7 linked regions of the Homo sapiens genome follow. The protein of the gene in region 1 purifies or fractionates together with the protein of each later gene. This does not show direct contact. Each region holds a gene or a part of one and is shown in the gene's direction. Other genes may lie near its edges. The genes, in order: IVD, STARD7, ALDH9A1, TRABD2B, ALDH1L1, TXNRD2 and ACAA2.

Region 1 (3,007 bases):
AAGCTGCTGGAAGGTAATAAGCATTGGAGTAAATGGTGCCTTGGGAGCCATGCCTTTCGGAGGCAGTGATGGCCACTTCGGGGTGTCATGCGGGCTGTGGAACAGCCACTCTGTGGCCCTAACTCCCACACCTGCCCCCATCTCCATCATCCTGAGTAAATCCCATCTCCTCTCCATGCCCCTGCTTCCTCATCCTTGGCTGTCTTGTTGCCATTGCTGACCTGCTTTTGGTAACTGAGAGAGTGTTCCAGCATGTTGACCTGTGACATCCCTTTGTGCCCAGTTGATGCAGGGGAAGATGGCTGACATGTACACCCGCCTCATGGCGTGTCGGCAGTATGTCTACAATGTCGCCAAGGCCTGCGATGAGGGCCATTGCACTGCTAAGGTGAGGGCCAGCCTCAGTCGGGGAGAGGCGGGGGCAGTGGACCAGCTGCTGAGACTTGCTGTCTGCGTGCCTCGCAGGGCCCTGCTGACCCCAGCTTCCTCCCGTAGGACTGTGCAGGTGTGATTCTTTACTCAGCTGAGTGTGCCACACAGGTAGCCCTGGACGGCATTCAGTGTTTTGGTGAGTGATCCCCACTTCCCAGTCCCGGGGCTCCCTCACTCCTGGGGCCTGTGGCTGCTTCAGAAAGCAGTTTCAGGGCGGGCGTGGTGGCTCACACCTATAATCCCAGCACTTTGGGAGGCCGAGGTAGGCAGATCACCTGAGGTCAGGAGTTCAAGACCAGCCTGGCCAACATGGTGAAACCGCATGCCGGGCATGATGGTGCATGCCTGTAATCCCAGCTACTTGGGAGGCTGAGGCAGGAGAATCGCTTGAACCCGGGAGGCAGAGGTTGCAGTGAACAAAGATTGCACCATTGCACTCCAGCCTAGGTGACAGAGCGAGAGGCTGTCTCAAAAAAAAGCAATTTCCTCTCCACTTCTCCACTCCTCACTATGTGCTTATGCTAGGCCCAGCTGAGCTGGGACCTTCGGGCTCTTTCTGTCCCAGTTACAAGGAGGAAATGGAAAGCAAATGAGAAAACTGCTAGATGCCAGGAGTTGCTGCTGCCTTCGGCAACACCCCCCTCTCATCCTCCCCGCCTCATAGATGCTAGGAAATGGGAAAGGGAGATGTGGCTGGGCACAGTGGCTCACACCTGTAATTCCAACACTTTAGGAGACTGAGGCCAGTGAATCACCTGAGATCAGGAGTTTGAGACCAGCCTGGCCAACATGGTGAAACCCTGTTTCTACTAAAAATACAAAAAAAAATTAGCCAAGTGTGGTGGCAGGAGCCTGTAATCCCAGCTATTTGGAAGGCTGAGGCTGGAGAATCTCTTGAACCCAGGAGGCGGAGGTTGCAGTGACCGGAGATCGCGCCATTGCACTCCAGCCTGAGTGACAAGAGTGAAACTCCGTCTCGGAAAAAAAAAAAAAAAAAAAGGCCGGGCACGGTGGCTCACACCTGTAATCCCAGCACTTTGGGAGGCCGAGGCAGGTGGATCACCTGAGGTCAGGAGTTCGAGACCAGCCTGACCAACGTGGTGAAACCCCATCTCTACTAAAAATACAAAAATTAGCTGGGTGCAGTGGTGCGCGCCTGTAATCCCAGCTACTCAGGAGGCTGAGGCAGGAGAATCACTTGAACCTTGGATGCGGAGGTTGCAGAGAGCCAATATCATGCCACTGCACTCCAGCCTAGGCCACAGAGCATGACTCCAAAAAAAAAAAAAAAAAAGCTAAATGGAAATTTCTAGAAATAGTTCATAAGTTTCAAATCCACACCATCCTGAATAGCTTGAAGTGTTGTGCCATGCTGCTCTGTCATGTTTGGTACGTGAATCGTCCCTTTGTGCAGCCTATCTATGCTATGTGGGCTACCTGCCCGTTAGTAGTCACCTAGGGTATCCAATCAGCTGTCCTGATATCAGAGTGCCTGTGTTCAAGTAACTCTTATTTTGCTCAGTGGCCCCAGATTGCAAGAGTAGTGATGCTGGCATGTCATAATAGTTCTATTTTAGTATTTGTTATTATTGTTGATCTGTTACTATGCCTAGCTCATAAATTAAACTTTCTCATAAGTATGTATGTATAGGGAAAAAAACAACATATATATGGGGTTCGGTACTATCTACGGTTTCAGGCATCCACTGGGGTCTTGGAATGTATCCTCCAAGGATAAGGAAGGACTAGTGTATTCCCCACACCCCTCCCTCTTGCTACCTTTTGCTGCTTTTCTTTAATCACCCTCTCCTCCTGTGGCCTGTTTCTATATACTTGGCATTCTGTTTGCTTTCTTTGTTTTGTCAATCACTTCCTTTCTTCTCTGCCCAAACCCTGGTTGCAGGTGGCAATGGCTACATCAATGACTTTCCCATGGGCCGCTTTCTTCGAGATGCCAAGCTGTATGAGATAGGGGCTGGGACCAGCGAGGTGAGGCGGCTGGTCATCGGCAGAGCCTTCAATGCAGACTTTCACTAGTCCTGAGACCCTTCGCCCCCTTTTCCTGCACCTAGTGGCCTTTCTTGGGAAGTAGAGATGTGGCGGCTTTCCCACCCTGCCCACAGCAGGCCCTCCTGCCCAGCTGCTCTTGTCAGCCCTCTGGCCTCTGGATGAGGTTGAGTTCTCCACAACAGCTCCCAAGCATCATGGGCCTCGCAGCCGGGCCTGTGCCACGGCTAGTGTTGTGTGATTTAAAATGGACTCAGCAGGAAGCATATTGTCTGGGGATTGTTGGGACAGGTTTTGGTGACTCTGTGCCCTTGCTCTCTAACTTCTGAGCCCACCTCCCAGGGTAGGCACCTGGGGGCATGCAGGTGCCCACCTCCCAGGGTAGGCACCTGGGGGCATGCAGGTACCCACCTCTTTCTCTTGGGTGAGGCTCTGGCAAGGAGATCTCTCTGCTCAAGCACAGCAGAATCATGGCCCCTCTCCATGAATTGGAACTTGGTACAGGTTAAGTATCCCTAATCCTGAAATCTGAAACACTTGTGGTTCCAAGCATTTTGGATAAGGCAAA
Region 2 (3,500 bases), on another chromosome or scaffold:
GGCTATCTTTTGGGTTCCATAGTTGCACAGGTGCATGGGATTTCTGTTCTTCATACTTCTCTAAACTGTTCTGGTTGTTTCTCAGAAAATTTGCCGTAGTTTTTTGTTTATTGTTTTTCTTCTCCCAGATGACAAATGTCTCAGTGTTGTCTTTGCTTACATCCTCTTTGTCTTTCTTTGTTGCTCTACTAAGACTTCTAGTTTCTGAACCTGCCTTTAAGATCTCTTAGTACTTTAGATCTGAAACGCCGCTAGGTGAAAGAAACAAGGCGAGTGACTGGAGTATGGCCAGCATCCCTTATTCTTTCTTTTCATTCTAGTTTTTGGAACCTACACAGATGTGACACCTCGGCAGTTCTTCAATGTTCAGGTGAGTTAATTTTTCTCTCCAGATTTGGAGCCTCCTAGCATATCAATTGCTACTGTCTACATGAATCATTTATCTGACTCAGGTGACATTGGCTTAAGTACATCCATCTATCTACCTGTCATCCACATTGCATAGCATTTAGGTAAACATTTGACTTAGAATTTCTTTATCTGTCCCATGGGGATGAGATCAGTTTTACCCTCCCACAGGACTGTTGGGAATATCAGATAGAGGAATGGATATGAATACTTTAATGTATTTTATGAGGCTTTATTGTTTTTTTCCCCAAACAACTTAAGAGTAAGTTACATACATCATAGTCCTTTACTCCTAAATTCTTCCAGTGTGTATTTCCTAAAACTAGCCATATGCCGTATTTCTTAACTAATCATGATACCATTATTGAAATTAGTAAATTTAACACTGATGGAACACTTTCATGTAGTCCTCTGTTTGTATTTATCAGTTTTATCAGTTGACTCAATGTCCTTTATAGCATTTTCCACTTCAGTACAGATAGGATTATATTTAGTTGTCACATCTGTTTAACCTCAAATCAAGAACATTTCCATAGTGGAGGGTTTTTTTTTTTCTTTCCTCTCCCTGAGACAGGGTCCTGCTGTGTTACCCAGGCTGGAGTACAGTGGTGTGATCATGTCTTGCTGCAGCCTTTGTTTCCTGGACTCAAGTGATCCTCCCACCTCAGCTTCCAGGCCTACAGGCATGCGCCACCACACTTGGCTAATTAAAATTTTTTTTTCTTAGAGACAGGGTCTCCCTATGTCTCCTAGGCTGGTCTTGAACTCCCTGGGCTCTAGTGATCCTCCTGCCTTTGCCTCCCAAAGTGCCGGGATTACAGGTGTGAGTCACTGTGTTGGCCCAATGTTTATTTCATAAAGATGAAGAGTATCTGTTCAAAGACTGCTTTCCTCCTTGTAGGGGAAGATGGTTTAAAAAATGAAACAGGGAGGTGGGATCGCCCAGAGTTCTAGAACAAAATTTTTTTCTTTCTGGATTTTTCATTTGTTTTGCTGACTTCCGATAACTACTTCGTTGGTTATAACACTCACTCTAACGTGCAAGTGCACTTTCCCTGAGGTACTGGATCTTGTTAATTTGTAGTGAATTTTTGTTGGTTTTATGTATATGGTATATCTGTCTTAAGTTGAAAATCTTCAGTTACTAGTGATGCCAGAAATTTAAAAAAATATGCTGCTTGCATTTTTGTGTGTGAAGTGTCTACTTAATACTTTTGGACTTTTTGTTGTTTAAAACTTTTTAGAATTGTCTTACCCTTACACATTCATATCACTATATATTATTTTCCCCAGATGTGTCTATTAAAATATTTTGTTACACTTTTCCTTGGTTTGTCTAATGAAGATTCACATTCAGTGTAATGACATTAGCCTGTATAAGGTGATTTTGAAAGAAACATCTGTAGTAAACACAGCCATGTCTCTCACACTCTGGCACTGTCTGTTAGGTCAGATTACTCTCTCCTTGTAATAAGATTCTTGGATCAGAGACCAAAGCATCTGGAAAGCTTTCTGCATTTTTGTTTTGGGTCTTCTTGGGTATTCATGGTCTTTTCTCTTTCTGCAGCTGGACACAGAGTATAGAAAAAAATGGGATGCCCTGGTAATCAAGCTGGAGGTGATTGAGAGGGATGTGGTTAGTGGTTCCGAGGTTCTTCACTGGGTAACCCATTTTCCTGTGAGTATTTTTACTTCTGATTTTATTTCTGTCCAGGTTTGTGTGATGCAGAACACTAATCCTGCTCCTCCATTTCTTTAGTATCCAATGTACTCACGGGATTATGTTTATGTTCGGCGGTATAGTGTGGATCAGGAAAACAACATGATGGTGTTGGTGTCGCGGTATGTATGGCTGCCTGTGGCTGTTGCCGAGTTCCTTTAGCTGTGGCCTTCATTCCTACGTACCTGAGTTTGTATATTCTTAGTGTCCTATGAGTCTCCCACAGGCTTCCCTGCAGCCAGTGCCCCTTCCATCCAGCTAGAAGATGAGGGACTCTGACTGTCTAGAAAGAATGGAGAGATACAAGCTTTTAGTTAAACTGTTTTTTTGGGTTCTTTAATGTTGGTAATCAAAAGAAGTGCTGTTGTTTTTGACCCACAGCCTAGTGAGCCGTAAATTACCAAAGGAACTCACTTCATTTTTAATTAATTCATTTGTTTGTTGTAGACGCAGGGTTTCACAGTGTGGTCCAGGCTGGTCTTGGACTCCTGGCCTCAAGTGATCTTCCTTCCTTGGCTTCCCAGTGTTGGGATTACAGGCATGAGCCACCACGTCTGGCCTTCGCTTCATTTTTAGAACTTAGTTTGTATTTATTCATCTTAGTGACTCCTTTGTTTTGTGTATTTAAAAATATCAGAGCCAGCTTTTTAGGCCTTCCCCTTAACTTAGCTCTCCTGTTGTTTTATATATAGACATTACTAAGAGTTTGCTTCTCCTTTCCTCCTTACCAGTGCTGTGGAGCATCCGAGTGTGCCAGAGTCTCCAGAATTCGTCAGGGTCAGATCATATGAATCCCAAATGGTTATCCGTCCCCACAAGTCATTTGATGAGGTGAGTTTTACCTCATCCAAGAGATAACATGTCATGGCTGTGGAATTTTCTCAAGGGATGTCTTACCTGAACTAGGGAGGAGGGGGTGTGGCGCAGGAACAGTTCTCGCTCGGGGGAGTCTGATGCTACTGGTCTGGGAACCATTTTTTGGGAACTCCTGACGTAGGTGATGTACCTGGAAGTTCCCCAAGGACAAAGTAGTGGCAATCCATTGGTTCCCTCTTATCTGAGAGATAGTTAAAAGAATCATAGCCACTGACGCATTAGCCTGTATCAGTAGCATTCTTCAGGAACTAGAGCGAGTACCTCCTGTCAACATTTTACTACAGTGGGCAGAGCACTGGATGGAAACTTTTCTGGATTTCTGCTTCCTTGCCAGAGTAATGGGAAGATTGGACTCATGCTGTCTGCCTTCTTTAAAATTCTGTGACCTTTCTTTGAAAAGAATATTTATTTCAGCCTAATGAGGTGTTTTGTGTTTATTTTTTATCTTTTTAAGCTAAATCTCCACTGAGAGTATAGATATTGATGCTAGTGGCTG
Region 3 (3,500 bases), on another chromosome or scaffold:
GATCGCGCCACTGCACTCCAGCCTGGGTGACAGAGCAAGACTCCATCTCAAGAAAAAAAAAAAAAAAAAAAAAAAGACTACTACTAAGAGAATATTGATAGATAATATTTTATTTAAATATGTGGCAACAATTTGAGTTAAAACTGATGTTTCCGCTCTTTATAGGCCGAGTGATAGCTACTTTCACATGTTCAGGAGAAAAGGAAGTAAATTTGGCTGTTCAAAATGCAAAGGCTGCTTTTAAAATATGGAGTCAAAAATCTGGCATGGAGCGTTGCCGAATCCTTTTGGAGGCTGCCAGGATAATAAGGGTATGTTCCAATTTATTTCCTTCCAGAACTCAGACATTGCTCTGAGGTTTCTTTGTGATGTTTGCAGTTCGACTTTGTTGCAACATTAGGCCGTAACGTTTTTATAAAATGGAAAAACATTTCCACATGCTCACCTTAGTATATAAAACAAGTTTTTGTTCAATACTTCCCATCTGGATGTTGGCTCTTGGACATCTCCTTTGGCAGGTTTTCATGTTTGTAAAGCTTTGTTTTGAATTATAATGCACTCTTTATAGCTCATCGTCCTTTTTTTATTTTTATTTTTTTTTTTTTTTGAGACGGAATCTTGCTCTGTCGCCCAGGCTGGAGTGCAGTGGAGTGATCTCGGCTCACTGCAACCTTCGCCTCCCGGGCTCAAGCAATTCTCCTGCCTCAGCTTCCCAAGTAGCTGGGACTACAGGTGTGTGCCACCATGCCTGGCTAATTTTTGTATTTTTCGTAGAGATGGATTTCACCATGTTGGCCAGGCTGGTCTTGAACTCCTGACCTCAAGTGATCCACCCACATCGGCCTCACAAAATGCTGGGATTACAGGCGTGAGCCACTGTGCCCAGCCTTTCTTTCTTTTTAAACCATGTGGTTTACTTGTTTCCTTTTTATTCTTTATTTTGATGATTCTCAAGTCTACCTTTCTTTTTCAGATTTGTTTTCAGATAGGGTTTTAAGTATCGTTACTTTAATTGGGAAGATTTCATAGATTTGTAGATGTTCCCTTTAAAAAAAAGAGAGTTAAACTTTTTTTTTACATCATAAATATATACAATTTTTATTTGTCAACTAAAAAAAATTGTAAAAACAAGTATTTAATACTCATCGCAAAACATAAAAAGCCTGCAATGCAAAGGGTTTCTGTGGTGTAGTAGTTACCACGCTGGCCTAACACACGGAAGGTCCTCTGTTTGAAACTTGACGGAAACAAAAGGTTTCTTTTGTTTCCCAGAATCTGACCAGGCTGCCTCTTCCTGGGAGTCCAGAGCTGCGAGGAACAAGTGATAATCCTGCCTCCTTTTTTTTTTTTTTTTATACTTAAGTTCTAGGGTACATGTACACAATGTGCAGGTTTGATACATAGGTATACAAGTGCCATGTTGGTTTGCTGCACCCATCAACTCACCATTTACATTAGGTATTTCTCCTAATGCTATCCCTCCCCCAGCCCCCCACCCCCTACGGCCCCGGTGTGTGATGTTCCCCACCCTGTGTCCAAGTGATCTCATTGTTCAATTCCCACCTATGAATGAGAACATGCAGTGTTTGGTTTTCTGTCCTTGTGATAGTTTGCTCAGAATGATGGTTTCCAGCTTCATCCATGTCCCTGCAAAGGACATGAACTCATCCTTTTTAATGGCTGCATAGTATTCCATGGTATATATGTGCCACATTTTCTTAATCCAGTCTATCATTGATGGGCATTTGGGTTGGTTCCAAGTCTTTGCTCTTGTGAATAGTGCTGCAATAAACATACGTGTGCATGTGTCTTTATAGTAGCATGATTTATAATCCTTTGAGTATATACCCAGTAATGGGATGGCTGGGTCAAATGGTATTTCTAGTTCTAGATATTTGAGGAATCGCCACACTGTCTTCCACAATGGTTGAACTAGTTTACAGTCCCACCAACAGTGTAAAAGTGTTCCTATTTCTCCACATCATCTCCAGCACCTGTTGTTTCCTGACTTTTTAATGATTGCCATTCTAACTGGTGTGAGATGGTATCTCATTGTGGGTTTGATTTGCATTTCTCTGATGGCCAGTGATGATGAGCATTTTTTCATGTGTCTTTTGGCTGCATAAATGTCTTTTTTTGAGAAGTGTCTGTTCATATCCTTTGCCCACTTGTTGATGGGGTTGTTTGTTTTTTCTTGTAAATTTGTTTAAGTTCATTGTAGATTCTGGATATTAACCCTCTGTCAGATGGGTAGATTACAAAAATTTTCTCCCATTCTGTAGGTTGCCTGTTCACTCTGATGGTAGTTTCTTTTGCTGTGCAGAAGCTCTTTAGTTTACTTAGATCCCATTTGTCTATTTTGGCTTTTGTTGCCATTGCTTTTGGTGTTTTAGTCATGAAGTCCTTGCCCATGCCTGTGTCCTGAATGGTATTGCCTAGGTTTTCTTCTAGGGTTTTTATGGTTTTAGGTCTAACATTTAAGTCTTTAATCCATCTTGAATTAATTTTTGTATAAGGTGTAAGGAAGGGATCCAGTTTCAGCTTTCTACATATGGCTAGCCAGTTTTCCCAGCACCATTTATTAAATAGGGAATCCTTTCCTCATTTCTTGTTTTTCTCAGGTTTGTCAAAGATCAGATGGTTGTAGATGTGTGGTATTATTTCTGAGGGCTCCGTTCTGTTCCATTGTTCTATATCTCTGTTTTGGTACCAGTACCATGCTGTTTTGGTTACTGTAGCCTTGTAGTATAGTTTGAAGTCAGGTAGCATGATGCCTCCAGCTGTGTTCTTTTGGCTTAGGATTGTCTTGGCAATGCAGGCTCTTTTTTGGTTCCATATGAACTTTAAAATAGTTTTTTCCAATTCTGTGAAGAAAGTCATTGGTAGCTTGATGGGGATGGCATTAAATCTATAAATTACCTTGGGCAGTATGGCCATTTTTGCGATATTGATTCTTCCTATCCATGAGCATGGAATGTTCTTTCATTTGTTTGTGTCCTCTTTTATTTCATTGAGCAGTGGTTTGTAGTTCTCCTTGAAGAGGTCCTTCACATCCCTTGTAAGTTGGATTCCTGGGTATTTTATTCTCTTTGAAGCAATTGTGAATGGGAGTTCACTCATGATTTGGCTCTGTGTTTGTCTGTTATTGGTGTATAGGAATGCTTGTGATTTTTGCACATTGATTTTGTATCTTGAGACTTTGCTGAAGTAGCTTATCACCTTAAGGAGATTTTGGGCTGAGACAATGGGGTTTTCTAAATATACAATCATGTCATCTGCAAACAGGGACAATTTGACTTCCTCCTAATTGAATACACTTTATTTTTTTCTCCTGCCTGATTGCCTTGGCCAGAACTTCCAACACTATGTTGAATAGGAGTGGTGAGAGAGGGCATTCATGTCTTGTGCCAGTTTTCAAAGGGAATGCTTCCAGTTTTTGCCCATTCAGTATGATATTGGCTGTGGGTTTGTCATAAATAGCTCTTATTATTTTGAGATAT
Region 4 (3,500 bases), on another chromosome or scaffold:
ATCTGAGTCAAACTGACAAGGCTGCTCTTCCTACCTGAACCGTTTGGGCCCAGCACGCATTAGTTTATACTGGGGGCCAGGGGCAAGCATGTGTTTGAGGGTTGGGGATTCCAAGGTAGCCTCAGGGACAAAGCCTTCTTCAAGTTTCCCTCCTCTCCCCTCACCCCAGCCCTCACCCCAGCAGCCCCAAGGACCTTCCCCTTGAAGCTCATTGTGTCTGTTCTGGCCAGGGCAGGGGAGGCAGGCAGGCCAGTGAGGCTAGCGAGCCTCCTATTCATCTCAGAGCCCAGGCATTAGGGGAGGGGGCCCTCCACAGCTCCCCCATGGGCTCTGCTCCAAGGACTCTCAGCCTTAGCCTCCTGCACGGGGGAGCAAGGGAGTTGGCAGGGCGGAGGGGGGCGGGAATGCTGAGGAGGCTCCAACAATAAAAGCCATCATCGGCCACAGGTGCTTCCTGGATCTAGCTTTTTGTCTGACTGTTTTGAATTATCTCCCCAGCAGCTGCGGCATCTCCAGGCAGCCTGAATCCTGAGAATCTGGGGTTGCCATGGGGGTAGGGGAGGAGAGGCTGAGCTGATGGCCTTCTTTCCTTCAAAGAGAGAAGCTCCTCACCCATCGTGCCGTGTGAGAGTGGGCTGGGAAGACGGCCTGCCTGCTGTCTTGGGTACTGTCTAACCTTGCAAGCTGCCCACTCAGCCACAATTCCTGAAACCATTCCCAACCTTCTCCCAGGATCACATGTCCCTAAAACAAATTCTATTGTGGCCATGGAGAGGAAAGAATAAAAGGGAGAAAAACAGAGGGTGCCCTTGGGCTAAGCGGTGCACGTGTATGCCCCTGTATAAAACATGAATTCCACAATGTGACAAATGACACTTTAGCGCCTGCCTGACAGCCAGGTCTATTTGCTTGTCGGCCAACATCCAAGAGAGGCTTATGTGCCAGGCACTGTGTTAAGACCTCATCTCATTCATCCTCATGACAACCCCATGAAGTAGGTAGTATTATTATTCTTGTGCTATAGCTCATTGCTGCTTGATATGATTAAGTAACTTGCCCTTCATCACACGGCTTGCAAGTTGTGGAGCCGGGCTGTGGACCCACATCAGTCTACCTCCAGCTCTGACTACTTAACACTGTCTTTGCTCCACTGAAAAGGTGCACAGGAAATGTGTATTGAATGTATGAATGGAAGGTTGGATGAATGCACAATGCTAATAATCTTAATTACTTAAATGTTTTGGCTGCTTACTATTTGCCAGACACTGTTCTCGGTGCTTTGCCGGTGTTCACCTTCATAATCCTGATGAAGTACCCTGTGAGATAGAGTCTGCAACACCCCCATTTCACAGCGTAGGAGACTGAGGCACAGTGAGGTTAAACTCACCTAAAGTCTCAGCCAGAGTTGTTGAATAAATGAGACCCTGACCAAGCTCAGATACGCCCCAGAGACGTACCCAGGGCTCGCTCCCTCACGTCTTCCTAGCCTGGGCTCAAATGTCACCTGCTGGTGACCAGACCACCTTCCCTGAGTAGCACCCTTCACCCCCACTCTCACACCTGTCTCTGTTTCATTTGCTCCTCGGCAGTTAGCAGCGTCTGGCATCCTCTGTTTTACTCTCTGTCTGCTGCTTTGGAATGTAAGCTCTCAGAGATCAGAGGCATTGTCTGTTTCCATCATGCTGATACCTACCTCCTAAAAAAGTGCCTGGGACAGGGTTGGTGCTCAGTAAATATCCGTCGACTAAACAAATGAAGGCATGACTCAAAGCACTGGCTTTCAGCACCAGACGAGGTTTTCCTGGGCTGCTGTCACCGGGCCCAGCAGGGGCACCCTGGCACTTTCTCCTGCCATGACAAACTCCCACTGAATTGGACTGTATTCCCACCACACATGGATGACATTCTCCAACACATGTGCCCCATGTGCCATTACCTCTTTCCAGCCCTGCCCCCCAGAGCCCAGCGCCCTCTCCTGAGGGGACCTCGACGAGCCCGGCCCCAGTGACCCCAGCTGCCGCTGTCCCCGAAGCACCCTCTGTGACCCCCACCGCCCCACCAGAGGATGAGGATCCAGCCCTGTCCCCACACCTCCTGCTCCCCGACAGCCTCAGCCAGCTGGAGGAGTTTGGCCGGCAGAGGAAGTGGCACAAGAGGCAGAGCACACACCAGCGGCCGCGGCAGTTCAATGACCTCTGGGTCCGCATCGAGGACAGGTGAGCCAGGGAGGGCAGGTCTGCCCAGGAGCTGGGCGTCTGCACCCGGGATAGTATACCCTGAACCCCCCACAGCTGGGCACACTGTCGTCAGGCCAGCCCTGCTCTAAGGAAGTGTGGCAGGTGGCTTTCTACAGCACGTTCCCATCTGATTTTTCAGTTTTATTCTCAAAACAAAAGCAATTCAACAACAAGTACAATTCTCTGCACCTTAAAGGTGAGGAAATAGAAGCTTTCTTCAGGCACAGCGCACAAATCTGCTTTGCACTCAGCTTTCCTGGGACACACCTGTACAAACAGGGCGCCATTTGTCCCATGGACTGGAGGTGAAACTAGGAGAAAATGGAACAAGCTGGCTAAGCCAAAAGGCATGAGCTCCCTGTGCCTAGAAGCTGTGAGTAGCCGACACCCTGGCAGGGAGGCTGCAAAGGGAACCGTGCTCTAAGAGAGAGATGGGATAGATGGTGATCAATGCCCTTGAAGCTGTGGGCTCTGTCTTAGGAGTGGATGGGGGATTTGTGATATATCTTGTTGAAAATGGACAGATAGGAGAAATCATCCTAATGCACGGAGACCCTTCTGTCCTCTTCCTATATGCCCCTCCTGCCACCTCTACCACCCACCTCAGCTTGTCTGTCACCAAAGTCCTGCTGTGACCAGGATGCTGTCTTCCAACCTCTGCCTGCAATCTCAGTACACAGGAGTTTCCCCAGATTCCACTTTTTGGCAGGAGTCTCCATATTTAGTGAACAGTGTTGCTAGAGCACAAGGAATGTCCCAGGGAGGGACTGTCAGTGATGGGGTAGAATCCTACCCACTGCACTGGCCCAGCTCTGAATATGCCATGCTTAGCAGTCATAGAGTCTCCATCTCAGAGTCTCTATCAGGGGGAGCCTTAGACTCTCCATCTGGACCCTAGAGATCGCCATCCAGGATTTTCCCCCGAAACCCTAGAGAGAATCACCTTGGCTATTCGTTAAATAAACAGATTCTCAGGCCCCACCGCAGACCTCATGTATCAGAATGTGTAGGACAAGGGCCTGGGACTCTGTATGTTGCGTGTACACCTGGAGATTCTTCTGAGCAGCTGTGGGAAGCCCTGACTACACTGTGCATTATAGATGGTGAACCAAGGCCTGAGTCGGAGAGGGTTTGACCAGGGTCCCCACAAGGAATCAAGGGCTGCCTCTTGCACTTTGCACTTCATGAATCTCCTACAGCCAGGTCTCAGAGCCAATGCCAAAATGTTGCCATGGTCCAGCCCATTATCATAAACTGTGGGGT
Region 5 (3,500 bases), on another chromosome or scaffold:
CATATGTGAGGGCTGCTTGCCCCTGCCCGAGGACAGGCTGGCAGGGACGGCCACAGGCAGAGGTGCTGTCCAGGCATGCAGCAGGAGGGAAGGAGGCCCTGGGGAGCCCTTGCTGTTTGGGCGCAGCAGGAAGAGCAGCTGCAGTGTCCACTGTCCCCTCGTCCTCCTCAGCTCCTGGCCACTGCCTTTTATTTTTCGGTTGTGTTAAACTTGTCTTCCCCACAGATTGACCAGCTCACAAAAATAGTGAACAAAGTAGAGTTGCTGGAGATTTAGTGGTACAGAGAGGGAGCTTACCTGTGCTTCCCACGGCAAGCAACTCAAATACTCCTTGAAGCTGCACTGTCCAACAAGGCAGCCACTGGTAACATGCAGCTATTAAATCAATTAAAATGAATTATACTGAAAAATTCAGTTCCTCAGTCTCAGCCACATTCTAAGTCCCCTGGCCACCGTGTTGGACCGTGCAGACTTGGAACTCATCCATCACCACAGAGGGCTCCATTGGGCAGCCCTGCCTCAGATGCTCTGACACCCGGTCACTTCCCATTCTTGGCACCTCCCGGTCTCTTCCCTCAGGCTCTTGCTCACGTGGGCCCAGACTCCTTGGCTCTCCTTCTCCCTCTCTGATTCCTTTCCCACCACCTTCCTCTTTCCTGTCACAGAGAAACAACTTCCTGCTTCATCTCAGACCTCCAAACTTCCACCTTCAAGCCCACCACGGGGCTCAGGACCCACTCTCTTTAAAGGCAGAGAAGGCTTAGACAGCAACATGGACATTTGTGTCTGTGTTATACCTGCAGGGCTTTACAGTTTATATAATCATCTAAGATATCAGAAGATGTAAGATCTATGTAATCTAAACCTTTGCCAGGTAGAGAGGACGGGTCTGTGTCCGTTGTGCAATAGAAGTTAGGTTCACGCTGACTCCCTTGTTCATATGGCAGGTGTTTCTTGGGTGACTGCTGTGTACCAGGCAAGTCTGGTCAGTCTGGGGAAGGGTCCAGGCTCAATGTGGGCCCTGGGGCTGGGAAGGAGGCAGGGTCCTATTGCTGGGGATAGCAACCCACTGGATCTCCCCAGGTGCAGGCCGTGAGGCTGATCGCTGAGGGCAAAGCCCCCAGACTCCCTCAGCCTGAGGAAGGAGCCACCTATGAGGGGATTCAGAAGAAGGAGACAGCCAAGGTGAGTGCTGGGTCCCTCCACACCCTCATCCTGCCTGTGAGCAGACTGGGGTTGTAGAGGGCAGCCTGAGGAGGCTGGGGTTCAGCCCAGATGGTGCAGGTTGTAATTCTTTGAGGCCAGAACACAGGGCAGCCCAGGTCAGGGATGCATGAAGAGAGCCGTGGAGGAGGAGGACCCTGGCACCTGGGAGGGTAGCGAACAGGGTCCATTCCAGGTTCTTTCCTGTTCCTCTTTAGGAGGAATGGGCAGACAAAGCCCACAGGGAGATAAGAGTGGGAGTTAGGGGGCAAAACGTCAGCCGTAGTGCGAGCAGTCTTCAAGGCAAGGTGTGAGGGACAGTGCGGGTCTCTGGAGCAATAGCCAGTGGAGGAGCCTCAGAAGCCTGTAGGCTGTGTCTCAGCTCAGGAGTATGGGTTGCTGTGTGGGGACCCACAGGGGCCCTGCCAGTGAAAGGTTGGGCCCTATGGGACGGGCCTGAGTACATTGTGCTGGGGCCTCTGTGTAGGGTCTGGGCCATCTTGACAGCAACAGAACATTATCTTCCCCAAACCATTCTGAAGTCTGCTCAGCCCATGAGAGACTGAGGGTCAGAGAGCACCCAGAACTAGGGGCACCAGCTCAGGGACTCCTGCAAGTGTCTAAGAGGAAGCTGGGGTTACCAGCTGTCTCACAAGAGCTTGGTCCACTGTCCAGATGTCATCAGGGTGGGAGGGGAGTGAGGAGAGACCAGCTGAGCACACACACCTTGCTCCCCACAGATCAACTGGGACCAGCCGGCAGAGGCCATTCACAACTGGATCCGCGGGAACGACAAGGTGCCGGGAGCCTGGACAGAGGCCTGTGAACAGGTGTGTCCCTGCATGGCTGGAATCCAGCCACGTGCATTGGTGTATCCCACTGGCCATTAAACTGTCACACATGTTTGAACTGGTTGGTATAATAAATAGCTACTGCCCTGGCCCCTACTCCCACTGGGTGCCCCCTAAACATCCCAGCCTTTCCCCAGGAGTGAGAGACCTACCCAGCCTGCAGTAGCTAAAGGATAGATGTCCTGCGTAGCTGGAGGCCTCCAGGCCCTTGTAGTGCCCCTGGGGCCCAGCTGTATTGGTGGTGAAATATTTTGAGTCTCACCACTGGGCTTGCGGAGACCCCAGGCCCAGTACTCACTCTGACTTGGCCTCAGGCAGGGTGGAGCAGCACATTCAGGGCCAGGCTGACCGTGGGCAGGCCAGATGCTGAAGATGGGGAGACTTGGGGGTCACAGGCTCTAGTGAGGCATCAGGGGTGGCGGGACTGTGTGTGGTGGACTTTGTGCAAACCTTGAGGGCAGTCTTGTCCCCCACACAGTCTCAGACTCTCCAGACCCCTGACCCCCAGCCGACTGCCCAGACTGTGGCCAGAAGCCTCTCTGCTGTCCTCATCAACGCAGAGCCCTTTGTACTAGCAAATGCATCTTCTGATCAAAGCAACCACTCCTTGGCAGCACCCTGAAGGCAGGTAGCCTCATTCCGTGATGCCTGGAGCACATTCTCCCCCAGTCTGTGCACCTCAGGTCTGAGGCCATGGGCCAAGGAGAAGGGTCTTATGGCAGAGTTGAGGCAGACCTGCCATCAGCTCCCTGAGGCCACTGAGGCTCCTCCAGGTCTTGTTTGTGCCCCAGGAGAAAGGGCCTCAGGGGTCACATGGGCTTTGAGCCGGCTCCCAGGTCTCAGCTACCCCTGGCCCCTCTCCCTCTCCCAGCCCTGCTCAGACCTGCCTGGGCTACTGGCTTCGGGGGCTTCTTCTCACCCACCATCTTCTGATATTTCTCCCCTTGACAGAAACTGACATTTTTCAACTCAACGCTGAACACTTCAGGCCTGGTGCCCGAGGGAGACGCTTTGCCCATCCCAGGAGCCCATCGGCCAGGGGTGGTCACCAAAGCAGGACTCATCCTCTTTGGGAATGATGACAAAATGGTAAGGGCACGGCTGTGGGTCACTTGCCTGCTCAAAGCCACCCATGCTCCTGTCCTTGGACTCAGGCCTCACAGGAAGACCCTAGGCTCCTCTGGAGAAAATGGAAAAAACCAGACCCAGGAAGGAACACTGACCCTGATTTGTCCCTGACCACCCGGCTGGTCCTGAGCACAGGGTGTCCGAGGCAGTTTACCCACTTCTCTGTTCTGGGAAAGCTGGGCTCCCTACCCTTCCTGGCTAGGCACCCATCTCCAGGCTGAGTGCCCTGTGTGGGTGTCAGGCAACCTAGAATCAGAGAGAAGCCCTCCCAGGGAGCCTGGGTTCAGGGCCTCTCTTTGGTCTATCAGAAACACCTCT
Region 6 (3,500 bases), on another chromosome or scaffold:
AATAGTGCCGCTGTGAACATCTGCAAAGAAGTTTTTTGGTGGACTTCAGTTTTCACTTCTCTTGGGTTACACTTAGGAGCAGAACTGCTGGGTCATGTGGTAACTTTATGTTGAATCTTTCAAGGAACGTTTCAAGGAACCTCAGACTGTTTTCCACAATGACTGTGTTTTACATTCCTTCCAGTGGGGTGTAAGGGTCATGGTTTCTTGTTTCTTCACGTATCTTGTAATTTTTTTATTGAAAGCTGAACATTTCAAATAATTTAATGCGATAACTTTGGAAACCAGATTCTCCCTCTGCCCCAGGATTCTGTTGTTACAGCTGCTTATTTGGTGACTTTTCGGAACTGACTTTGTAGACTCTTATTCTTTGATGTATGTGGCCACTGAAGTCTTTACTTGGTTAGCTTAGTGGTCAGCTAAGAACTGCATGGAGATTTCCCTAAACTAAGAACTCTCCCGGTCTTTGCTGAGGGCTCTGTGTGCGTTTGGAGGGGATGCCTTCCACACTCAACAGGCAGCAGACAGCTCTGCCCTAGCCTTCACTTCCTGCTTCTGCAGAGATCAAGGTCAGCTGGAGGTGAGGGTTCAGGGCCTCGTTGGTCCTTCCTGATGTGTGCACAGTGCTGTGCATGCGCCTGGCCTAGGTTCCCAGGAATATGCTGGAACCTTTCAAAGCTCCAGCAGACATCTCATACTTTGGCTTTTCCTTTGAAGCTTTTTGGGCAGTCTGTTGTTGGCTCTAACTGTTACCTATCCCCTCAGGCAGCTGTGAGAAGAAAACCTCAGACAAATGCCCCCAGAGAAAGGCTTTTAGCCCTGGCTGAGCTCCGGTGAAGTTGGATGAAGATGACCCTATAGTTGCTGACTCTGACTCTTCTTTGTGGGGGGGCTTTGAAAGACCCCAGCTGAGTTCTGCTCTCTCTGACACATCACTGTTCAGGGCTGCCGCTGAGGTGGGAGTGGGACCAGAGTGAGTTAAAACACCCTGGAGTTCCCATTCTCACTCAGCTTCAGCTGTTTTTCCTGACTTTAAATGTTCCCTGTGTTGCTGCAAGCCTGTGGTTAATTTCCATAATTCTGAATCTCCCAGTTCTTGCCAGTTTTATCGCTGTTTTTAACAGAGAGGTGAATAACTCCTGGCCCAGTCTTGTGGGTTGTGGGGGCAGAGTTGAGGAAGGGGCCCCGGGGTGAGGGGTTGGGGGGCAGCTGCAGCAGGGAAAGCAAATGGGCTGGGGGTGAGCAGAGAGGTTTGGCTGAGACCAGTCCCCACGGGTCTCCCAGGGAACCGTGTGCCGCCTGCTCCAAGCCTCTAAGTAGGCTGCAGCCAAGCTCTTGAAGACCACGGCTCTCTCGGCCTGGAGGCCACACCACCTCTGACTTAGACCCAGGGGCAGTCCGGTGGAGGCAGAGCAAGGGGAGGTTCTGCCACTTCTTGGATGTGACCCCAGCCTCCACTTCGTCCTGTGCTTACTGTGGAAACAGGGAAAGGAGCGGCCCCGAGGAGCACAAGCACCCCCAGTCCTTAGAGGCCGTGGGACTTGTCTGGCCGCCAGGCAGCCACAGCAGCCTCTAGAGGGGGCAGGTTGCTTATGCACAGAGGTGGGGCTCAGGGCTGCGTGACTTTGTAGGATGACACTGTGCAGTTGTTCAAGGCAGCTGCTGCAGACAGGGTCCCAGTGATCCCCTCTCCTGGCAGCTGGGCTCATGGTGGTTCTGCTTAAAGAAGGCCACAGCCAGCTTCCAGCAGCCCAGCGGTCATTGGGTTTCTCTGAGGCCCCAGGCAGAGCTGCACGTGCATCCGCACCAGGGAGCACTGCACAGGGGCCCTGGCCTGGCCCGGCCCTGCTCTGCACCTCACGGGCAGCTGCTGACGGCTCTTTGGGCTCACAGGGGATCCAGCAGGCGCTCCTGGTCCTTAGGAGGCAGGCAGCTCAGGGCTGCTTCGCTCTCCCTGCCACGCCCTCCCAGGGTGTCTGCCAAGGCTTGCTTGCGTTTTAGTCCCTTTGATTGCCAGACCTTTCGGTTTTCCTTGAGTAAACCTGAGAAATTCCTGACTTTATTTTTTTTTGCCAGTTGGAAGCATAAACTGTTTGAGATCCGCTTCCTCCACCAGCACATCTTGTTCTCATGGCCGCTAAGGGGACGTTCACCCTGGGCCTCCCACCTGCTTGGCCGCCCCTCTTCAGGTGACCTGTATGATTTCTGGGCTCAGAGCCCACCCGGGCCAGCCCTCGAGAGTGTGAAGTCCGTCCTGGCTTCAGCCAGGTGCCCTCAGAGCTGCCCCTCAGTCCCTGCCCACCTCAGCCTGTGGCACTTACCCCCTGTGCCTCCTCTCCTCTGGCTGGCCTTGTAGGCCACCCCTGCCGCGCAGACACACCTGAGCTCTGCTGGCCCTGATTTGCTGACCTGTTCTCTCCCCACTTCCTCTCTCTGAGTTTGGATCCCCCAGAACCCAGGTGTTGCTCCCTGGGGCTGCATGCCCCTGTCTGTTTGATGTGTCTGTCCAGAACCCGGGCAGACTTGAGGGGTCCCAGCTGTCTGCCTGTATGGCCCCTGCAGTTGCTGTACCCACCTCAGGCCCTGTATCCTGCTCTGAACCAGGGTCAAGGGGAGGGTCCTGGGGAACAGAGGGGAAAGGTACCCTGCGAGGGCACCGGGACCTGGAGTGCAGCAGCTTAGATGCAGACAGGCCACCTGCAGCCCCAAAGAGGCCACAGCCTGCAGACAAGGACTGGCAGCAGGGAAGCCCTGTGCATGTGTGCCCTGGGAAAGCTCTGCTTGATTCTGCAAAGCTGGCATCCTCTTTAAGGAAGCCCTAGGACAGGCCAAATGGAGCTCTTGTCCAAGGGGTCATTTCTGTCTTGACAGATCGAAGGTGCCTTGGAATATGGAATCACAAGTGATGACATCTTCTGGCTGAAGGAATCCCCTGGAAAAACGTAAGGCCTGCGCGTGCTTGGTGGGGTCCTCTTTTTGTTCACCAGAGTGAGCACTGGACCCTTAGAGCCTGTGCTGGTGCTGGGCTCCTGGGGCTTTCTTTCCGGTTTACCCAAAAGAAGGAAAAAAGGCCTGTTATTTGTGGCCAGGTGTGGTGGCTCATGCTTGTTAGCCTAGCACTTTGGGAGACTGAGCGGGAGGATTGCTTGAGGCCAGGAGTTCGAGATCAGCATCAGCCTGGGCAATATAGTGAGACCTCTACTCTACAAAAATCTGTTTTGGTTTTTTTTTTGGCTTTTTTTTTTAGGTGAATTCTCACTCTGTCCCCCAAACTGAATTGCAATGGCCCAATCTTGGCTCACTGCAATCCCTGCCTCCCAGGTTCAAGTGATTCTCCTGCTTCAGCCTCCAAAGTAGCTGAAATTACAGGCGCCCACCACCACATCTGGCTAATTTTTGTATTTTTAGTAGAAATGGGGTTTCACCATCTTGGTCAGGCTGGTCTTGAACTCCTGACCTCAGGTGATCCGCCCACCTCGTCCTCCTAAAGTGCTGGGATT
Region 7 (3,500 bases), on another chromosome or scaffold:
GTAAACTTGAAGTAAGGTAATTGCCAGTTTGTGTAAGTATAACATAATATACTTTTCAGTTCTGCCACATTTCAACATAGTAACTGTTCCCTTTATGTACGTGGCTTTGAAGGTTTATTCTTTGTTGTGTGTCAGCTTCTTGGAAGGATAGCTCCTAGTACTGCATAATAATAATAATACTTGCAACCACTTATTGAGTACTTGCCATGTTTCAGGTAACACACTGGACACTTAATACTCATGATTTTATCTAACTGTGACAGTGACTCTTAGCATGATACCACAGTCACATTTTCACACGCGGAAACGTGAATTTAAAGAGTTTAAAGAATATGCATAAGGTCACACCCTAACAAATGGTATAGCCAATATTTGAACCATCCATCCAGTTCTAAAACCTGTGGGCTTTCTACAGTATCCCACTGTGTCTGGTATGTGTCAATTTATGGGATTACTGAGAATTGCCTCTAAGGGATGCATTTGACTAAAAGTATTATTTAGTAAATATACACATTTTAAACCTGATAGCTTTATGCAGAATGATTGTAGATAAAATAACTTTGCGAGGTAATTTAAATAGGAAGAAACAGCAGACTTAGCTGTTGATAGGACTGGACCATTCTCATTTAAAAATTAGTTTGTGAGTAAGGATTTTTGTTAGTGCTCTAATTTTTGTTTTAAGGTGAATGAAGCTTTTGCTCCCCAGTACTTGGCTGTTGAGAGGAGTTTGGATCTTGACATAAGTAAAACCAATGTGAATGGAGGAGCCATTGCTTTGGGTCACCCACTGGGAGGATCTGGATCAAGAATTACTGCACACCTGGTTCACGAATTAAGGTATTTGCTAGAAATAGCTGCATTTCAGATTTGCTGTTTTTTATAGAAATGCATGGATTTAGGCTTCCCCAGAACACTCCAACATTTTTCATTCTTCTTCATGTCTCCTGCACTGGCTGTTACCAGGAACAAGTTACTTGGGCAGTGCTTTTCATCTGGTCTCATAGATGAGTCAGTCACCTTGTTAGTGGCTTTGCACTTAAGAACCAAGCTCTTCCTCTGTGTGTCCAGTCTCTGTGCACTGTGTGCCCCACTCAGCTTGTGTTCACTGCATGAGCAGATAATGAGGCCCTGCTTCTCATGGCACTTGTATTTTAGTGCCAGTTACAGGAGTAAAATAAATCTATTTTAGAAAAAAAAAGTACTGAGTGAGTACTGATCTAGATGCCATAATTTATGAAATCTAAGCAAACTGACATTTGGGTCTAAGTTTTTCTTTTCACTGCTTGCAGGGTTCCAGGAGGAACCTTTTGGGTGTTTGGTGCTTTTCAGTTTTGATAGATAGTACCAGAAGGAGGAGCTCTTCTATTTTTGGAATATTTTGCTCTGTAGAAAAATTGCAAACAAAACCAAGTAAGTCAGGCTGAAAAATTACTCTGACTCCCTGTTAGGCCAGGGGAAATGTGACTCTTATTTCACTTAATGATTCCCTGAGTTGAAATAGGTGATTGCCACATACAAAAGTAATTCCTGGATAATTTTCTCGAAGTCATCATATTAGGAGTGAGGAGTACTTTAAAAGAGTCTAATTTTTATGAAAGGGACATGGATAGTTTCTAAATTATCTGCCCTTTCATAGGGACAAACTTTATTAATTACATTTCTTCTAAGGTGCCATGAGGCTCTCACACTATATAAATCAAATATATAAATCAAAGGAGCTTAATGTTCATCCCCTTCCCCAGCTTCCCATTTATCCAGTTACCTCCTCTTCTCACTCCTTTCCCGTAACACACACAAGCTTCTGTATGTGTTTCATATACCCTAAATCTACTCTATAACCCTAAATCCACTCATCTCCTTTTTAGTTTGCCTCCCTCTTCTGGTGTTTGTTTTTGTTCTTTGTTTTTTGTTTTTTTTGATTAAAAACTTTCAGCTTTCCAAAGTCTGTTGCCTGTTGTAATTATACCAAAATTGAGGACTGGGGAAAAGATTGAGCAGATGAGCTGAATAAGGATGAGTAATGCAGATGTGATGTTATTAGTTCTATTTCATTAATCTGATTTTTTATTAGAGTAGATTTCAGTCACTGCTTTCTTTTTCAGGCGTCGAGGTGGAAAATATGCCGTTGGATCAGCTTGCATTGGAGGTGGCCAAGGTATTGCTGTCATCATTCAGAGCACAGCCTGAAGAGACCAGTGAGCTCACTGTGACCCATCCTTACTCTACTTGGCCAGGCCACAGTAAAACAAGTGACCTTCAGAGCAGCTGCCACAACTGGCCATGCCCTGCCATTGAAACAGTGATTAAGTTTGATCAAGCCATGGTGACACAAAAATGCATTGATCATGAATAGGAGCCCATGCTAGAAGTACATTCTCTCAGATTTGAACCAGTGAAATATGATGTATTTCTGAGCTAAAACTCAACTATAGAAGACATTAAAAGAAATCGTATTCTTGCCAAGTAACCACCACTTCTGCCTTAGATAATATGATTATAAGGAAATCAAATAAATGTTGCCTTAACTTCAGTTAATATTTTCCTGTCATTTATATTTTTAAAAATTTTAAATTGTGATAAGATACACATTACATAAACTTTACCATCTTAACCCTTTTTTAGCGTACAATTCACTGGTATTAAGTACATTCACATTTTTATACAAACATCCCCACTTTTTATCAACAGAACTTTTTCAGTCACCACACATGGAAACAATAACTCCTGATTCTCCCATCCCCCATCCCCTGACAACCACCAGTGTATTTTGTTTCTATAAATTTGATGACTCGAGGTACCTCATAAGTGAAATTATAAATATCTGTCCTTTCGTGACTGGCTTATTTTACTTTACTTTATATAATGTTCTCAAGATTCATCCACCTTATGGTGTAGCATGTGTCAGAATTTCCTTCTTTTTAAAGGCTGAATAATATTCTGCTGTGTGTATAAACCTTACTTCCTTCTTCCCAGCTTAAAGGCCATCTTTCATCCTTTATTTTCTCCCTTTAAAATGCCCCCACAACACTTCCATTGCTTTATTTGTCTGTTCTAAGACTGGATATCTAGTAGGGCAAGGCCCTATTCTTGTTAACTTCATCAAAGAGCCACTGGAAATTTTAATTAAGATTAAATTGAATTTATGGGTTATACATTTATTGGGGGGAAATTTTTTTTTTTTTTTTTGAGACAGAGTCTCGCTCTGTCCTCCAGGCTGGAGTGCAGTGGCGCGATCTCAGCTTACTGCAAGCTCCGCCTCCTGGGTTCATGCCATTCTCCTGCCTCAGCCTCCCCAGTAGCTGGGACTACAGGCGCCTGCCACTACGCCCGGCTAATTTTTTGTATTTTTAGTAGAGATGGGGTTTCACCGTGTTAGCCAGGATGGTCTCGATCTCCTGACCTCGTGATCCACCCGCCTCGGCCTCCCAAAGAAGTGCTGGGATTACAGGCGTGAGCCACTGCACCCGGCCTTTTTTTTTTTTTTTTGAGATAGCATCTTG

Evidence for each region.
Region 2: the proteins of IVD (region 1) and STARD7 purify together in Homo sapiens (co-immunoprecipitation; one large-scale study listed by IntAct). This does not show direct contact.
Region 3: the proteins of IVD (region 1) and ALDH9A1 fractionate together in Homo sapiens (co-fractionation; one large-scale study listed by BioGRID). This does not show direct contact.
Region 4: the proteins of IVD (region 1) and TRABD2B fractionate together in Homo sapiens (co-fractionation; one large-scale study listed by BioGRID). This does not show direct contact.
Region 5: the proteins of IVD (region 1) and ALDH1L1 purify together in Homo sapiens (co-immunoprecipitation; one large-scale study listed by IntAct). This does not show direct contact.
Region 6: the proteins of IVD (region 1) and TXNRD2 fractionate together in Homo sapiens (co-fractionation; one large-scale study listed by BioGRID). This does not show direct contact.
Region 7: the proteins of IVD (region 1) and ACAA2 fractionate together in Homo sapiens (co-fractionation; one large-scale study listed by BioGRID). This does not show direct contact.

The regions. Positions count from the first base shown.
Region 1 is NC_000015.10:40,415,795-40,418,801, forward strand, and holds part of IVD (isovaleryl-CoA dehydrogenase, mitochondrial isoform 1 precursor), read left to right. Parts: intron 1-283; coding exon 284-388; intron 389-495; coding exon 496-568; intron 569-2,335; coding exon 2,336-2,469; 3' UTR 2,470-3,007.
Region 2 is NC_000002.12:96,191,828-96,195,327, reverse strand, and holds part of STARD7 (stAR-related lipid transfer protein 7, mitochondrial isoform 1 precursor), read left to right. Parts: intron 1-320; coding exon 321-370; intron 371-1,975; coding exon 1,976-2,086; intron 2,087-2,167; coding exon 2,168-2,250; intron 2,251-2,859; coding exon 2,860-2,959; intron 2,960-3,500. UniProt on the Homo sapiens protein: May play a protective role in mucosal tissues by preventing exaggerated allergic responses.
Region 3 is NC_000001.11:165,692,063-165,695,562, reverse strand, and holds part of ALDH9A1 (4-trimethylaminobutyraldehyde dehydrogenase isoform 1 precursor), read left to right. Parts: intron 1-165; coding exon 166-311; intron 312-3,500. UniProt on the Homo sapiens protein: Converts gamma-trimethylaminobutyraldehyde into gamma-butyrobetaine with high efficiency (in vitro). Can catalyze the irreversible oxidation of a broad range of aldehydes to the corresponding acids in an NAD-dependent reaction, but with low efficiency.
Region 4 is NC_000001.11:47,773,886-47,777,385, reverse strand, and holds part of TRABD2B (metalloprotease TIKI2 precursor), read left to right. Parts: exon of another isoform or gene 1-463; intron 464-1,946; coding exon 1,947-2,216; intron 2,217-2,376; coding exon of another isoform or gene 2,377-2,431; exon of another isoform or gene 2,432-3,500.
Region 5 is NC_000003.12:126,153,087-126,156,586, reverse strand, and holds part of ALDH1L1 (cytosolic 10-formyltetrahydrofolate dehydrogenase), read left to right. Parts: intron 1-1,083; coding exon 1,084-1,185; intron 1,186-1,943; coding exon 1,944-2,033; intron 2,034-3,005; coding exon 3,006-3,143; intron 3,144-3,500. UniProt on the Homo sapiens protein: Cytosolic 10-formyltetrahydrofolate dehydrogenase that catalyzes the NADP(+)-dependent conversion of 10-formyltetrahydrofolate to tetrahydrofolate and carbon dioxide.
Region 6 is NC_000022.11:19,910,819-19,914,318, reverse strand, and holds part of TXNRD2 (thioredoxin reductase 2, mitochondrial isoform 5 precursor), read left to right. Parts: intron 1-2,871; coding exon 2,872-2,942; intron 2,943-3,500. UniProt on the Homo sapiens protein: Involved in the control of reactive oxygen species levels and the regulation of mitochondrial redox homeostasis. Maintains thioredoxin in a reduced state. May play a role in redox-regulated cell signaling.
Region 7 is NC_000018.10:49,782,534-49,786,033, reverse strand, and holds part of ACAA2 (3-ketoacyl-CoA thiolase, mitochondrial), read left to right. Parts: intron 1-682; coding exon 683-837; intron 838-2,102; coding exon 2,103-2,187; 3' UTR 2,188-3,500. UniProt on the Homo sapiens protein: In the production of energy from fats, this is one of the enzymes that catalyzes the last step of the mitochondrial beta-oxidation pathway, an aerobic process breaking down fatty acids into acetyl-CoA.